Linked DNA regions of Homo sapiens: region 1 is linked to region 2. The links come from fine-mapping of genetic effects on gene expression. A gene starts in region 2. The other region holds a variant in brackets. All regions are shown on one strand. Distances are between the middles of the regions. Region 1 overlaps CACNA1D (calcium voltage-gated channel subunit alpha1 D). Region 2 holds the start of CACNA1D (calcium voltage-gated channel subunit alpha1 D).

Region 1 (2,903 bases), 210 kb after region 2:
AGGATTCCAGTTTCTTATCTGAAGTATTAGTGTCACTGGGTGTGCAAGCATCTGTTCAGCCCCTCGACAGCCTAGAGTTAAGAGACGGGTGTGAATATGGGGTTAGTTTTGTTGTTGTTGTTATTATTATTATTATTATTTTGGAGACAGCGTCTTGCTCTGTTGCCCAGGCTGGAATGCAGTGGCATGAACTTGGCTCACTGCAACCTCTGCCTCCCAGGTTCAAGCAATTCTCTTGCCTCAGCCTCCTGAGTAACTGGGACTGCACCACCATGCCCAGCTAATTCTTTTTATTTTAGTAGAGATGGGGTTTCACCATGTTGACCAGGCTGGTCTCAAACTCCTGACCTCATGATCCACCCACCTTGGCTTCCCAAAGTGCTGGGATTACAGGCGTGAGCCACCGTGCCTGGCTGGGGTTAGCTTTATGAAAGCAGGTCACTTCCCCATTCGTGGGTTGGGTTGGGTTGAGTTGGGTTGGGTTGGCTTATCGAGGTAGGACCCTGAAAGAGACATGCTGGCTTTGACTCGGAACAAAGGCAAGAAGGCAGACAGAAGTAACCTGTGTCAGAATCTCAAGGTCTGTGTGCAGAAACTGCATTGCTGTAACCTCACCTGCTTCCTTGGCAGCTTTTTACTAAGTCTCTAACTCACATATCTTGGCTCCTATAACAACTCACGGTTGGAGATGCAGATGGTTCCTCATATATAAAAATTGGGTAATCGTCCACCTGACTCTCAGGCTTGCCTGAGTATGTGGGGTTTTGTATATATGCATAGTCAGAGGCTTGCACACATGGTGGAAAGTAGCATAAACACCCCACAATTGGGAACATTTACCTGTCTGCCAGATCTTTTCCAGGGCAGGTGTTCCTATAAATGGGCAGAAAATCATATGCCTCTTCCCCTCCTGCAGGGAAGACTTTTGGGGAAGACCATGACAAGTAGCAGGGGTTAAGAAAAACAGTAATGCTTCATCAGTGCTCGAGTTCCCATCTGGGAAGGGAGAACTGGGTTGTGGAGGGGGTGGGGACTGCCCTGACTCCATGCACTGCTCTGGCCCGAACCTGCAGGTGATGGGTAGAGGAGCCTAGTGTGGGCACCAGCAAGGACTGCTGCCTGCTCAGAGCTCTTGGTTTGGACAAAAGGGGTAGCACACAATATTAATGCAAAGTTTGTCCAAAAGCATTGAAGAAGTTCTAAACTTGGTACTCTTTGACCACAGCTTGGCCCATTTGGGTCCCTCCTCTTTGAGGAGGCTCTGGGGAAAGTGGGGCGTCTCTGAGTTCAGGCCCCTTGTTGGGGGGTGTCAGAGGCCTGCCATGACAGCACATGGTGTTTTGGGCCTAGGCCCCTTGAGATCGCTGTCATCGAGGGGAGTTCATTTTCTAAGAAATGATGCATGTGTGTTGGTGTGGGCTCTGCGACTCTGACCCCCATAGTCTTGCTTTGGAAGACACTGTCTTCTGTCCTGTCCAAGTGTGTGGCTCCATTGCTGTGCTCATGTGACTATACTCAGTGCTGTGTGTCCTGCCCACAAGACTGTTGTGCA[G/A]TAGGGCAGTGGCTCAGGATGCAGGTCCCCAAGGATGTCCTGATATGTGCTTGTCCTCTTTGCCTCCTTCAGAGAATTCTCAAAGGAAAGAGAGAAGGCAAAAGCACGGGGAGATTTCCAGAAGCTCCGGGAGAAGCAGCAGCTGGAGGAGGATCTAAAGGGCTACTTGGATTGGATCACCCAAGCTGAGGACATCGATCCGGAGAATGAGGAAGAAGGAGGAGAGGAAGGCAAACGAAATAGTATGTAGCGCCTTTCCTGCCCCTGGCTAGACAGACCCAGTGTGCGGTTCAGACGCCTAGCAGTAGGCCTTCCTCGACTCTGACCCAGGCTGTGAGTGGGACAGCCTCCTCCCAGCCATCTGGTCCCTTCTGCCTGCACACATCACGGAGAGAACAGGTGCATTGGTGCTGACTCTGGATTTCTGCCTGAGGTTTGGGGTTTAGAGTTGTATTTGGTAAGGTGGCTTTATAGCCAAGGAAGGTCAAACGGACCCACTGTTGGCCTGGGAAATTCAGTAAGCGCATTTCTGTGCGGGCACAGGGGTGATGAGACACATATTCTTGTACCACAGGAGAAGAAGCTGTGGTTTCCCTCACCTCAGAGTGAACAGTGTTATTGGACAAGAATTTGAAGTGCAGGGTTCCTCTTGACTCTTACTCTTAGGCCACCTGACATGGCTCCTACATGTGCTATTCATATGAAGCCATATGCTTAGCCCATCAGGGGCTGGGAGGAAACCGGCTCACCATTCTAGGCAGGTGTTAAGGGGCACGTGAGTCAGTGACAGCTGCTTTGCTGTCACCCATCGACACCCCACACTGTGACACTAAGCACCCTAGAGCACCTTCTGCAGGAGGCAAGGCCTGAGAACTCAGTCCATCACTGACATTAATTGCCATTGTCAACCACGGTGTCTCTTTCACTGCATACTTTTCCCACAGATGCGCTCTTATTCTCTCTGGGGCCCTTTGTGCCTCGGGTCAGAGTGGAAACTGGAATCCAGCAATGCATTTGACTGAGATGTCTGTGACTTGCTTCAAATCTAGAAGAGTTGGATAGGAAGGACCAAGAACGTACTTCAAGTGCACATGTCCATTGAGAGGCCTGGGGACCCGAGGCCGGCCCTACGTTGTAGAAGATGGCCGAGCAAGTCCCTGCTTGAGCAGAGCGCCTTGGATGTTTTGCTCTCAGCAAGGCCTGTTGCTGGGTACAGGGGAAACCCAGAGCTGGAGAGGATGTGGAGTGCTGCCTCCTAGGGAGAGACAGGCCTGTCACACTAAATGCAGCCCTGGGGAGCAGAGCTGCAGGGCACACATAGAGGGCAGGCACCGCCGACGAGGGATCGAGG
Region 2 (2,903 bases):
GTTCGGCTCAGTCATCCACTAGATACAGTATTTTTCCCTCTAGACAGGAGCTGCTGTTTGCAAATCTCCCCCATTCCAAATCTGAGCCAGCAAAGGTATCATAAAACAAACTTGCTCAGGGAATTTTGTAGAAAAGGCCTCAAGAGGCAAGGCTTTAGACCAGGAGTTCTGAAAGTGACATGTGTACTTGTGAATTTCATACATGCTCCTTGGATGGGCTAGTTTCTTTGGAGGGAACCGTCTTCTATTCCCTTCAGATTTTGGATCAGAAGCAGCCATAGGAGAGGTGGCCCAGGCCAGCTTTATATTGTTACTAGACCGTAGGGCGATTTCTCGCCTCTCCAGTCTCCAAAAACAAAGCACAAAAAAGGACAAGAGCCTGGTTGTTTTCATCCTCACGGACCAGACACCCCCTCAGGAAGGCCTCTGGAGAGTCTTCTGTCTGGTCCCCAGTCTCTCTGCCCAGGTGCCCCCCAACAATTGAGGATGACTAGTGTGTTCTCTTTGGGTAAGGAGCACCTTCCCATAAACACTTATTTTTCTTAATTCACGCTGAGCTTTTACTTTATTTTCGCTTTAAAGTCACTGTTCTGAAACGTTCTAAAACGCCGTAGGAACATGCAGATAGGAACAAAAGCAAATAAATCGAATCCTGTGAAGTAACAAAGCAGACGCCCTTCTCCTAACAGGCAGCACAAAGCTAAATGAAAAATATCAGTCATCCACTAGATAAAGTATTTTCCCCTTTAGACAGGAGCTGCCGTTTGCAAATCTCCCCCACCCTAAATCCAAGCCAGCGAAGGTATCAAAAAATAAACTACTCCCTTCAGCTCCCAGACTGGAGGCAACAGTTTCAGCAGCACCGTCTATTTCCTTGAACAACACGAGCGGTTTGAAAGACCTTGGCTTTGACTTCCCTGTACCTGCCTCCAAACACACGTGGGGGCGGGGTGGGGTGGGGGGAGATATTGCCCCCCATCCCCGTTGCCTTCCGCGACGCCAGGCCAGGCGCAGGGCAGGGGAGAAGATGGGGGGCGCCCTGGATTCGCGGTTCCAGCTGCAGGCAGTTACCTGGGGTAGTGAGTGCTCTCTACAGACCCGGGCTACCCCAACCCCCCCGATTCCAGAAAGGGCCGGAGAAAAGCAGGGGGCGCCTGCCCCGCTCCGGAGCAGCCAGGGAGCCCGGCCGAGCCTTGACGAGGATGAGCTCGGAGACCGCAGCAGCTACCGCCCGCTAGCACCTGAGCTCCCAGGGGGCGGGGCCTCCTCCAGGTGTGCGCAGAGGAGGCCGGCGCGGAGTCGGGGCCGGCGCGGGAGCCCGAGCTGTCCCCCAGCCCAGAAATGCGCGGGGAGGAGCGGTTCATCCGCACCCCAGCGCCGCGGGAGACACTGGCGCCGCCTGCCTCCTCCGGGTCCCGGGGGGAGAGCGCACCGTGCGGCGCGGAGGGGGTTAACCGGGCAGCCCGCCGCTGGAGCGCGCTTAACCCTTTGGAGCCCGCAGGTCAGCCGGGCCAGGCTGGGGTGGCGGCACCCCGAGTCCCACGCGACGGCCACCCCGAGCGCGCAAGTGGTGCCGGGCAGAACCGCGCGCCGGGCTGCAGACCCGCCGGGGCGCGGCGCGGCGCGGGCCGTGGGCGGCTCGGGGCGGGCGGAGGGCGGGGGACGGCGGCGGGCGCGCAGCGTCGCCAGGGCGAAGCCGGCGTGCGGCGCGGCGCGGCGGGCGCGGAGCGAGCGGGCGGGCGAGCGCCTCCGTCCCCGGATGTGAGCTCCGGCTGCCCGCGGTCCCGAGCCAGCGGCGGCGCGGGCGGCGGCGGCGGGCACCGGGCACCGCGGCGGGCGGGCAGACGGGCGGGCATGGGGGGAGCGCCGAGCGGCCCCGGCGGCCGGGCCGGCATCACCGCGGCGTCTCTCCGCTAGAGGAGGGGACAAGCCAGTTCTCCTTTGCAGCAAAAAATTACATGTATATATTATTAAGATAATATATACATTGGATTTTATTTTTTTAAAAAGTTTATTTTGCTCCATTTTTGAAAAAGAGAGAGCTTGGGTGGCGAGCGGTTTTTTTTTTAAATCAATTATCCTTATTTTCTGTTATTTGTCCCCGTCCCTCCCCACCCCCCTGCTGAAGCGAGAATAAGGGCAGGGACCGCGGCTCCTACCTCTTGGTGATCCCCTTCCCCATTCCGCCCCCGCCTCAACGCCCAGCACAGTGCCCTGCACACAGTAGTCGCTCAATAAATGTTCGTGGATGATGATGATGATGATGATGAAAAAAATGCAGCATCAACGGCAGCAGCAAGCGGACCACGCGAACGGTGAGCAGCCAGAGCCCGGGCACCCGCTGCCAAATCCGATCCTGTCATGGTCCTCCAGCCCCCTCCCCCTTCCCCGCGGCGCTGGATGGGTTGAGGGGGTTGGAGAGGGTGCTGCCAGCTCGGTGTCGTCTACACAGAGAGGGGACATGCGTGACAGCCACTCCGCGCTCCCCTCCAGGCCCTGAATGTCAGAGTTAATTCTGCATTTGTGGGGTGGGGGCGGCCGTGGAGTGTGTGGAGCGCGGTGCAGCCGGAGGGGCGGCGAGTCGGGGTGATTCGGGTTCAGTGTCCTCGGGCTCAACTTTCCTTCAACGCCCCCGAGCGATGGCAGGAGGGCCGCAAGTCTTCAGCCGGAGCCCCCTTGCCAGCCTCTTCTCGCCTTCCACTCCTCCCCCGCCCCCTCGTTGACTAGGAAGAAGGTCCCTGGTGGCATCCGGAAAATTCTAGGATTGCCCGGTTTCGCCCTCCGCGCCGGTGGGTGAAGCACACCCATCCCCTCGCGGGGGAGGCCCGGCCTCGGTATCGGGGAAAGGGGTTCGGGTGGAGCGTGCGTTCCCGCTCCCGTCGCCGGCTGTGCACACGTCGGTA

Evidence for each region. PIP is the estimated chance that this variant, and not a neighbour inherited with it, causes the effect.
Region 1: its variant is fine-mapped to the expression of CACNA1D in whole blood (TOPMed, PIP above 0.99).

Annotation. Positions count from the first base shown.
Region 1 is chr3:53,701,017-53,703,919 of GRCh38, forward strand. CACNA1D (calcium voltage-gated channel subunit alpha1 D) reads left to right here. Exons shown (of 48, transcript NM_001128840.3): 9 at 1,625-1,794. Among named protein-coding and RNA genes, the nearest start is that of CHDH, 140 kb to the right of the region's middle. The variant G/A (reference allele first, on the strand shown) is at 1,553.
Region 2 is chr3:53,492,919-53,495,821 of GRCh38, forward strand. CACNA1D (calcium voltage-gated channel subunit alpha1 D) reads left to right here and starts at 1,693. Exons shown (of 48, transcript NM_001128840.3): 1 at 1,693-2,315. The coding sequence starts at 2,249. RefSeq lists enhancers at 1,142-1,641, 1,972-2,757, 2,758-2,903.